2 separate regions of the Homo sapiens genome follow, and region 2 is linked to region 1. Evidence: fine-mapped expression QTL. A gene starts in region 1. The other region holds a variant in brackets. All regions are shown on one strand. Distances are from middle to middle. Region 1 holds the start of MYBPC3 (myosin binding protein C3). Region 2 overlaps CKAP5 (cytoskeleton associated protein 5).

Evidence for each region. PIP is the estimated chance that this variant, and not a neighbour inherited with it, causes the effect.
Region 2: its variant is fine-mapped to the expression of MYBPC3 in whole blood (INTERVAL, PIP above 0.99).

Annotation. Positions count from the first base shown.
Region 1 is chr11:47,350,185-47,355,429 of GRCh38, forward strand. It overlaps MYBPC3 (myosin binding protein C3), which reads right to left and starts at 2,518. Exons shown (of 35, transcript NM_000256.3): 1 at 2,439-2,518; 2 at 1,055-1,321; 3 at 318-431. The coding sequence starts at 2,463. It overlaps SPI1 (Spi-1 proto-oncogene), which reads right to left. Exons shown (of 5, transcript NM_003120.3): 5 at 4,676-5,245. The coding sequence ends at 5,043. RefSeq lists enhancers at 180-1,161, 1,162-2,142.
Region 2 is chr11:46,836,466-46,841,964 of GRCh38, forward strand. All of the region lies in intron 1 of CKAP5 (cytoskeleton associated protein 5), which reads right to left. Among named protein-coding and RNA genes, the nearest start is that of CKAP5, 7.1 kb to the right of the region's middle. The variant CA/C (reference allele first, on the strand shown) is at 2,152.

The DNA.
Region 1 (5,245 bases):
ACAATCTCGGCTCACTGCAAGCTCCGCCTCCCAGGTTCACACCATTCTCCTGCCTCAGCCTCCCAAGTTAGCTGGGACCGCAGGTGCCCGCCACCACGCCCGGCTAATTTTTTTGTATTTTTAGTAGAGATGGGGTTTCATCATGTTAGCCAGGATGGTCTCAATCTCCTGACCTCATGATCCGCCCACCTCGGCCTCCCAAAGTACTGGGGATTATAGGCCTGAGCCACCGCACCTGGCCCAGCAAAGGCTTTTGAGACCTGCCCTGGACACGCCCTACCCACGGATCCTGCCCCTCCCTGCCCAGCCCCTCTCACCTTTGGGACTTGGGGCACTTTCTCCCAGCTCAGCGGCTGGGGCCGGGGCTTCTCCAGGGGCTCCAGTGGCCTCAGCAGGGGCAGGGGCAGGGGCCAGCATGGGCTCTGCCTTCTCTGGAGGGGATCAGATGGGAGTCGTGGTGCAGCCACTAACCAGAGACCCCTCCACCCTCTCTCTCCTGAGCATTGGACCCATGAGCCCGCTGTGGATGAGGAAAGTCTGCCATGGCTGTCCTCCCGCTGCCTGGGCCCCTCAGAGGCAGCTCATGCTGAGCTGGAGAGCCAGCCTGCCTCTCACATTCTCCTCCCCGTCCCAGGCCATCAGTTCCCATGTCCTCTGCATCTGCCCTGAACAGCTCCAGGTCCATCCCTGCTCTGCCCCAGCCTTAGAGCAGCCCCTCAGACTGGGCTGCACTCCCCTCATCCACAGCTCCTGGGGCTTCCCGGCCGTCTGTGCAGGGTCATCTCCCCAGGGAGGTCTGCAGGGGGAGAGTGGGGTTGTGTCTTGTTCATCTCTCCCACCTACCCCATGGCTGGAACAAGCCAGGATGGCACATGGGGGTACTCAGAGAGGTCATGTGCAGAAAAGGGGGAAAGGGCGTTCCTGGCGGGGGGCACAGCCACAGCAAAGGCAAGAAAGTGTGAAAGCACCTCCTGTTCCCTGGATGGATGGAGAGTCGCTGGGCTGCCCCTCCCCCAGCAGCCCAAACCTCAGGGAAGGCTGATCAGGATCTTACCTGCCTCTATGACCTTGAGGTCGAACTTGACCTTGGAGGAGCCAGCAATGACTGCGTAAGATCCCTGGTCGGCAGGGCCCACTTCCCGCACTGTCAGCGTATGCCGTGTGCCCTCTGTGGCCAGGCCGTACTTGTTGCTGGCGCTGATGTCACTGCCTCCGCGCTGCCAGCGCACCTTCACTCCTGCCCGCTCTGTCTCGGCCTCGAACACGGCAGGGCTGCCTGCGGCCACTTCCACTGACCGTGGCTTCTTGCTAAAAGCTGAGACTGAAGGGCCAGGTGGAGGCTACAGCGGCCCCTGGTTGGAGCGTGCACCCCGCCCCTGCAGCCCCTCTCAGTAAATACTGTGCTAGCACTTTCTATGCATCCCCTCACGTAATACTCTACCAGTTCTCTGAGGTAGTTGCAGTTATTCTGTTCATTTCTCAGAGGAGGACACTGAGGCTCAGAGAAGCTAAGCGGCTCCTCCAAGATCACACAGCTAGCAGTCGGGAGAGCCAGGGCTGTGGTCCTGACCTCCCAACAAGACTTTTTCTGCATGTGTCCACTTTCCCTGCTTGGAGACACCCGTGATGAACCCAGCTCCCTTTCCCCCAACCATTTCGGGCCCTTGGCAGGGGGCGGGGAAGTCTGCCTACTTGGAATGTGGCCAAATTTGTCCTCCAAGGACCTCAGGCTGGGTATCAGCAACTGAGATAAAGCTGGCCTGGGAGGGCGCTGGGGGATGGGGACCTGGATCTCTGCCCTGGACAACCTTCATAAGGGCACAGCCCAGGCCCAGGTCCCTGGGCTGTGATTTTCCCTGCCCTTGGCCTGGGTTCAGGGGCTCCTGACTGTCCTCTCTCAGAGAAGAGGGGCTGTGTCACCCTCAACATGGGGGCCACACCGTACAGGCTCATGAAGCAGATAATGTCACAGCCAGGAGGAACCAACCCAATGCCACCACCACCCCCGGCACCCCAGGTTGGGAGACTGAGACCCATAGTGGGTAGAGACTGGTCTGAAGGCATGCCGTGAGCCTGGCTCAGCTCCATACTAAACGTGGGCTCTGTCCGCGGGGAACCTTGCTGTGGAAGGTGAAGGCAATGGGACAGGGAAGGGGTCCCTTTGCATTCTCAGAATGGGTTGACCCCGGGTGCTTCCTGTCTTGGCTGTGTCCCCTCTCTGCGTCCCTGACCTTGGGTTTACCTTCACCTCTCATCAGAGGGATGGGAAAAAGAAACCGAGAATCAAAAAAGGACCCTGGAGGACTGGCTGCCCCTGTCCTGGGGCTCAGAGGCCACGTCCTCGTCAACCCCCTCAAGAACTCCCTCCTAGCCCTGCTCCCCAATTGTAGACACCCCCCTGCTCCCACACTTAGACCCAACCCCAGTCCTAAAGCTACCTGGCTTCTTCCCCGGCTCAGGCATCCTGAGAGACGTCACACCAGGCACGAAGCAGGCACAGGTCACCCAAAGAGGGACTGAGTGGGGTCCTGTCCTTCCCACTATATATGGGGACCTCCCCCCTCCCCAGGCTCTGCTTATCTGCCTCCTGTCCAGCCACCTGCTAAATATAGATGAATTCCAGAGAGCTGAGGTCTCTCCAGGGAGAAGGTAGGGCCACATTGTCCCTGGCTGGCTCCTGTCCCTTCCCCCCTCACCCCCCGCAGCACAATTCTGCCTCCCCAACCTTTGGCAAGCCTCAGGGGTACTCCAAGCCCCGTGTGTGTCCCTCTTACAGCAAATTGTACGGTGGGAGCATGCTGGGCCCATAACCCTAAGGCTAACGGGTCAGGAGCATCCTCGCAGGCAGTTCAGGCAGTGGTCATGTCCACAGACCCTGGGGCCAGGGTGTCTCTGAGTCCTAGCACTGCCATCTCTTTAATCTCAAAGCACCTGGTTTCCTCATCTGTAAAGCGGGGTGGGTGAAAGCAGCACCCACTGCACAGGATTGTCACACGTATGAAGTGGGTTTATAATTTTAAAAATGTTAGGCCGGGTGTGGTGGCTCATCTGTAATCCCAGCACTTTGGGAGGCCGAGGCAGGCAGATTATTTGAGGCCAGGAGTTTGAGACCAGCCTGGGCAACATGGCAAAACCCCATCTCTACTAAAAAAATAAAAAATAAAATAAATACACACACACACACAAATTAGCCAGGTGTGGTGGTGTGGACCTGTAGTATCAGCTACCCAGGAGGCTGAGGTGGGAGGATCGCTTGAGTCCAAGGAGTTCCGGGCTGCAGTGAGCCAAAATCGCACCACTGCACTGCAGCCTGGGTGACAGAGTGATAATAATAATAAAAATATTATTTATTATTATTTTTTATTATTAATATCTCAAAGAATAATAATAAAAAAATAAAAATGGGCTGGGCGAAGTGGCTCACACCTGTAATCCCAGCACTTTGGGAGGCTGAGGCGGGCAGATCACTTGAGCTCAGGAGTTCGAGACCAGCCTGGGCAACATGATGAAACCCCATCTGTACAAAAAATACAAAAATCAGTCAGGCATGTGACGCACACCTGTAGTCCCAGATGCTCGGGAGGCTGAGGCAGGAGAATCACTTGAGCCCGGGGGGTCAGGGCTGCAGTGAGCCATGTTCGTGCCACTGCACTCCAGCCTGGGCAACAAAGTAAGACCCTGTCTCAAAAAAAAAAAAATAAAAATAGAAGAATGAAGACACAACACCATTTTGCCTTCTCTTGTGGCCCTGCAGTAGGACTAGGGAGCTGCAGGGTTGGGCTGCAGTGAGCCCTCTGGGGTTGAGGAGGTGTGGGGCGGGTATTTGTCCCTACGATAATGGCCCCAGAATCTGGGTTCCCTAAGGTCTTTGACAGCGTTGGGAAGTCCCTCACTCCCAGGCTGTCTACTGCCACTACTTGCTACCGTCTGGAGGAAAACACAGGACTTACAGGCTTCTCCGCTCAGCTTGGTCTGTTTCTCCCCTGCTGTGGCTAGGAGCTAGAAAGCAAATAGAACCTGGGGGTCCCACCAGGGATTCACTTGGGTCTAAAGTCCTGCTGGGCGTGCAGCTCGTGAGAACCCTTTGCGGCCCACAGGAGCTTTGGGGCTTAATTCCTGTCCTCGGAATGCTGAAGAGTATCCTCTTCCAGATAAGCAAGGCCTCCCACTCCATGTTGACGTGTCGGGACAGACCTGGAGTGTGATCCAACTTGGCCACTCAACGGCTGTGACCTTGGGGAAATAATTTGACCTCTACAAGCCTCAGTTTCCCATTCTATAAAATGGAGTGATATTAGACTCCACATCTCAAGGTTGGCAGATACTAATTGACCAGAATATCAAATGTTGTTGCTGGTCATGGTCATCATCATCATCATCATCATCATCATGAGTTCAAACCTCATCAAGGCTTAAAAACAACAACTATCAGGAGTAGAGAGCTTTTAAATAGGATCTGCTCTCCTAATCACAATTGAGGACTTGTTCTTTCCACCAAACTCTAACTCCTGTTCAGGCGCTCTGTGTCATTGGTCCTCATGTTCCCAGGGTCCAGCATTGGGTACAGTCCTCGGTAAACACCCGATGGACAAATGACAAAAAGAGACGTCGCAGCACACAGGGGCCAAAAGAGATACACAACAAATTTTAAAAGAGACTCTGTGCTGCAAGAGGATGGATTGAGAATAACTTTACTTGTTTTTTGGGAGGAGGTTAATGGGTGGGAGGGGTGAGAGGGGAGATCTGATTTACATACGGACTTGAGACTCCCAAGGCAGTACCCCGGGTCGTCCTCTGCAAGGTTGCCCCGGTGGGGTCTGACGCCCAGCTGGCGTCCGGGAGCCGGGGTGGAGTCCTGGAGGGAGGCGAAGCGGGATGTGGAGGGGGCCTGGAGTGGGGGGAGGGGGCGGGTGAGGCGAGGCCCGGCCCGCCACAGTCCTGCCTCTGGGCCCCGGGAGCGTCCTCCCTGTGTCCGGGCCGGGCGAGGGCTTAATGCTATGGCCAGCGGGGAGGCCTGGCGGGGCCCGGCGGGGGCTGCGGGCTCAGTGGGGCGGGTGGCGCCGCTCGGCCAGGCCCCCGCGGCCCAGCACTTCGCCGCTGAACTGGTAGGTGAGCTTCTTCTTCACCTTCTTGACCTCGCCCGTCTTGCCGTAGTTGCGCAGCGCGCGCGCCATCTTCTGGTAGGTCATCTTCTTGCGGTTGCCCTTCTGGATGCCCCAGCGGTGCGCCAGCGCCTCCTTGTGCT
Region 2 (5,499 bases), 510 kb before region 1:
ATTTCAGGAGGCTGAGATGGGAGGATTGCTTGAGGCCAGGAGTTTGAGACCAGCCTGGTCAACACAGTGAGACCCCATCTCTTTAAAATAATAATAATAATAAAGTGGGGACACTACATACCTACCAGAAGGGCTAAAATCCAAAAACCAGATAGAACTAAGTGCTGTTAAGAACGTGGAGCAAGAGGAACTCTCATTCATTGCTAATAGGAATGCAAAATGGTACAGCCACTCTGGAATAGAGTTTGGCAGTTTCTTACAAAACTATAACTAGTCTTACCATATGATCCAGCAACCTGCTTCTAGGTATTTATCCAACTGAATTAAAAATTTATGTCAGCTGGGCACAGTGGGTTGTACTGTTAATCCCAGCACTTTTGGGAGGCCAAGGCAGGAGTTCGAGACTTTTATGACATAAAGAGTGAACTTTAATGTATGCAAATTTTAAAAAGTCATTTAGGAGACTGGGAGATTGCAGAAAAGAATGAAGACTATGACAAGGGAATCTATATTACAGATGTGTGAAACAACTTCACCAAAGGGGGTGGGAAAAAGGTTCTGACCTAAGTAGCTTTGGTAATGAGTGGAGTCTGAAAGATTAAGGGCAAAAGGAACTGCACAGAAGTATGTACTCTAGTTGATAAAGTTTTTTTCATGGAGTATGGGTTAGCAATTCTGATACTGCTATCCATGTATGTATATCCATATATAATGGAACTGGACAATTAAATAAATGGATGGTGGAAATTAGGTTTTTCACTATTGTGAATGGAAATTCAAAGATCAGCAAGGGGAGGAGGCTAGAATGATCTATGTGATAATGGATCAGAATTGGAGACACCAGTAGGAACTCATGTTTTTCCCCCCCGCCCATACTACTGAAAGTGATCTATGGAACTCGTTTAACTTAATATAGACACAGATGGCTACATAGAGAAATATTTATAGATATGTCTATATACATGGGGTTAGCATACATTCATATATTTCTTTGCTCTAACAGTTGAAAGGACCTAAAAGAAATGACACCCCAGTAGCAAAGAGAACACTCAGTACCCAGGTCTTGTTTCTAATAGCATTCTCCAATAAGGGAACCAGGGCACCTTGGGGAAATGGCTGATTCTAGCACTGGGACAAGAAATACACAAGATGAGCCTGGAACATTTCCAGATAGTAAGGAAGTACTCAAAGATCAATACAAATACGCGCACACACACACACATGTATGTTAAAGGAATACAGGAAGCTCCCAAAGGACAAAGCTGGAACAACCTGAACAACAAAATAATGTAATATTGGAGTGTAACCTAAAATATAAAATAAATATACTTGAGTCCACACTATTATCAGTAAATACTTGACTAAACTAATAAATGGGAAAGGAGAGACAAGAATTTCAAATAAATTAAGTAGGTACTCCACCCTAAGATCAAGGAACTCCCCATTCCTTAAGTGTGGGCTGCAAACAGTGACTTCCCTTCAAAGAATACAGTATAGAAAAGGAGGGGAAAAAAAAGTAAATTCACTGTAGAAACCTCACAAACACTATTTCAGGTCAATATGAACAGTCAAGGTCAATATTAAGTCATAAATCATGTTGATAGCATGTACCCTTGATATGATGTGATGAAAATGGCACTTTACCTCTGTGGTCTTCCTGCCCAAAACCTGTAACTCCAGTCTAATGAGAAAAACATCAGACAAATTCCAATAGAAGGACATCTTACAATGTATTTGACTAGTACCTCTCAAAACAGATTAAAATTTTTTTAAAAAATTCAGATGTATAATTTTTCTAGCTTTCTTAAAGACTTTCTGAACTAGTCTAAAATAATTTTAAGACTAATTGAGACTGTTAAGATACTGCTTACACCCAAAAACACAGGAACAAGCCTGGTGCAGTGGCTCACACCAGTAATCCCAGCACTTTGGATGCTGGAGCGAGAGGATTGTTTGAGGCCAGGAGTTCAAGACCAGCTTAGGCAACATACTGAGACTGTGTCTCCACAAAAAGAAAAAAATGACAGCCAGACACGGTGGCTCACGCCTGTAATCCTAGCACTTTAGCACTTTGGGAGGCCGAGGCAGGCAGATCACTTGAGTCCAAGAGTTCAAGACCATCCTGGGCAACATAGTAATACCTTGCCTCTT[CA/C]AAAAAAAAAAAAAAAAAAAAAAAAAAAATTAGCCGGGTGTGGTGGCACTCGCCTGTAGTCCCAGCCACTAGAGGCTGAGGTGAGAGGATCCCTTGAGCCCGGGAGGTGAAGGTTGCAGTAAGCAGAGATCAGGCCAACACACTCCAGCCTAGGAGACAGAGTGGGACCCCATCTCAAAAAAAAAAAAAAAAAAAAAAAAAAATTGCTGAGCCACCATTGTCGCAACATTTTTAGAATATAAAAATAAAAAAAAATAAATAAAGACACAGAAACACAGCCAACTGAATAGTCAGATACTGTTTTTATCACTTTTTTGTTCAGAGAAGATGATGCCAGTTTTGGCCAATTTTGTTCAACAAATATTTTTGACCACCTAGTTTGTTGCAGGCATTGTTGAGTCACTGAGGTAACCTCAAAGGAAAAAAAAAATCTATGTTCTGCTTTCATTTTTATGAGAAAATCTAACAATATATAGACAAACAATAAACAATTACATAACAATATATGCTATGAAGTAAATAAGGAAAAGTGAAGTAAAAGTGACCAAGAGGGCTCCTCTAATTCAGAGCTCAGAAAAGTGTCTCTTTAAGGAGATGACATTTAAGTTGAAGCCTGAGAGTGCCAGTAATACAGGCTGGGGGTAGGGGTAGAGTGAAGTGAGAAGTTCCAGAACAGAATGCAAAGACCGAAAAGAATAAGCGTAATGTGTTGGAGTTATACACATCAAGTAGGTAGAGTAACTGCCCTGATAGAAATGAGCTAAGTAATGTATTCTAAACTCCAGAGGCAAGAATAGGAAAATCATTTAAAAACCTTAAAACTCTCCAACATTGACTACCAAGAATCCTAATTAGATTAAGAACTCAATTTTTATGCGTCCCTTTAGCTACCCACCGCCACCACTGTCACAGTTGTCCATCTTCCATATGGTAAATGCCATCTTTCCTCTAAAAACTATCATGCCTGTCATTCATATTTCATCACATCTCCGATAGAAGTACTTTTTTAAAAGGGGCTGGGGGAATTCTACCCAGAAATTGCTCCTGAATTCTCCTACAGATCCCTACTTCACGTAGTACAATCATAGGTTAAGAGCAAAGGCCCTGGAGACAGACTGACTTGGGTTTGAATTCAGATTCTATCACTTAGTTCTATGATTTTGAGCATGTTGCACAGCCTTTTAAAGACTCAGTTTCCTCATCTGTAAAACATTGTGAGGATAAAAAAAGATAAAATGTAGCGGGACATGTTGGCTCATGCTTGTAACCCCAGCAATTTGGGAGGGTAAGGAGGGCAGATTGCTTAAGCCCAGGAGTTTGAGACCAGCCTGAGTAACATGGCAAAACCCCATCTCTACAAAAAATACAAAAATTAGCATGTGCCTGTAGGCCCACCTACTTGGGAGGCTGAGGTGGGAGGACAGATTGAGCCCAGGAGGTTGAGTCTACAGTGAGCCATGATCACACCACTACACTCCAGCCTGGGCGACAGAGTGAGATCCTGTCTCAAAAAAATTAATTAATTAATTAATTAAACAAAATGTGGGACCCAGTAGGCATTCAATACATGTTAGCTACTGCTAGTAAAAGTATCTGGGCATGTATTTTATTCAAGGACCAGAGCTGACCCCAGAGGGATTACAGAAACTATAATTTGCTACAGTAAATTGTTTGACAGATAAAACTGTCAAACTCCCTTAGGTCAGGGCCTTTGTCTTTTTCTGGTTCACCAGTGTATTCCCTGAATCTAGAACAATGTGTGACAGACATTAAGCATCAATCTCAATATCTGTTCAATGAATGAATAAGACCCCATTAAAGGAGCATAAGAGAGCCTGGCTTTACCTTAACATACTCATTCCCTGTCAAAATTTTTAACACTTATCCTAAGGCACTGTTAAAGTTGTTTATTATTTTTAATTGCTTACCAAAAACCTAGAACAGTGTTCATAATATTAAGGTACTCAAATTTATTGCAATTAAAACTTTGCTGCTGGAGAAGCTGAGAGCTGAACACATGGTGGTCCCTGGAGCGTGGTGTGCCCAGAGAGGGCATGGAAGCTCCATGCCTCTTCCCCTATACCTCACCCTATATAGCTCTTTGTATCCTTTGCAATATCCTTTATAATAAACTGGCTGGAAAATGTGTTTTCCTGAGTTCTATGAACAGGTCTAGCAAATTAATCAAACCCAAGGCAGGGAATGGGGGGCGGTATTAGGAATGCCCATTTTTATAGTCAGCCTACAGAAGCACAGGTAAAAAAAAACCTGGGGCTTCAGATTGGCATCTGAGTTGGGGGCAGTCTTCTGGGACTAAACCCTCAACCTGTGGGATCTGACACTACCTCCAGATAGAAAGTGTCAGAATTGGCCAGGTGAGGTGGCTCATGCCTGTAATCCCAGCACTTTGGGAGGCTGAGGCGGGCGGATCACTTGAGGCCAGGAGTTCAAGACCAGCCTGGCCAAAATGGAGAAACCCCGTCTCTACTAAAAATACAAAAAATTAGATGGGTGTTGTGGTGGGTTCTTGTAATCCCAGCTACTCGGGAGGCTGAGGAAGGAGAATCTCTTGAACCCGGGAGACAGAGGTTGCAGTCAGCCAAGACTGCGCCACCGCACTCCAGCCTGGGCAACAGAGCAATTCTGTCTCAAAAAAAAAAAAAAAGGTGTCAGAATTGAACTGAATTAGAGGACACACAGCTAGTGTCCACTGCTGAAGAACTACTTGCTTGGTGTGTGGGGAAAAAAATCTCACACATCTGAGGTCACAGAAGTTTTCTGTATTGTGAGAGTATAAGATAAACTTATTAAAGTTTCTTATTCTATATTCTCAGAATTGGCGTCAGAATTGGGATTTGCTAGAATGACTTGGCTCACAGACACATATGGTTTGGGAAGAAAAAGGATAAAAGGATAGGGATAAAGAACTTTGATTCTTAGGTGGCCAAGTGGTCACCCATGGTAAAGAGCTGAAGCTGTGCTGTCATCAATTACTAAAGGTAAAAGTTATCCATGGAATCCAGAGATGGATCCAACTGCCTGGGAGTTGGTTCACAGGATGCACAAGGAAATGCAAACTAGTATTAAAAAAGTGATATGCTGGCTCGGCACGGTGGCTCACGCCTGTAATCCCAGCACTTTGGGAGGCCAAGGCAGGAGGATCACGAGGTTAGGAGATTGAGACCATCTGGCTAACAGTGAAACTCCATCTCTACTAAAAATACAAAAAATTTAGGCGGGTGCTGTGGCTCACGCCTGTAATCCCAGCTACTCAGGAGGCTGAGGCAGGAGAATCACTTGAGCCTGGGAGGCAGAGGTTGCAGTGAGCCGAGATCGTGCCATTGCAC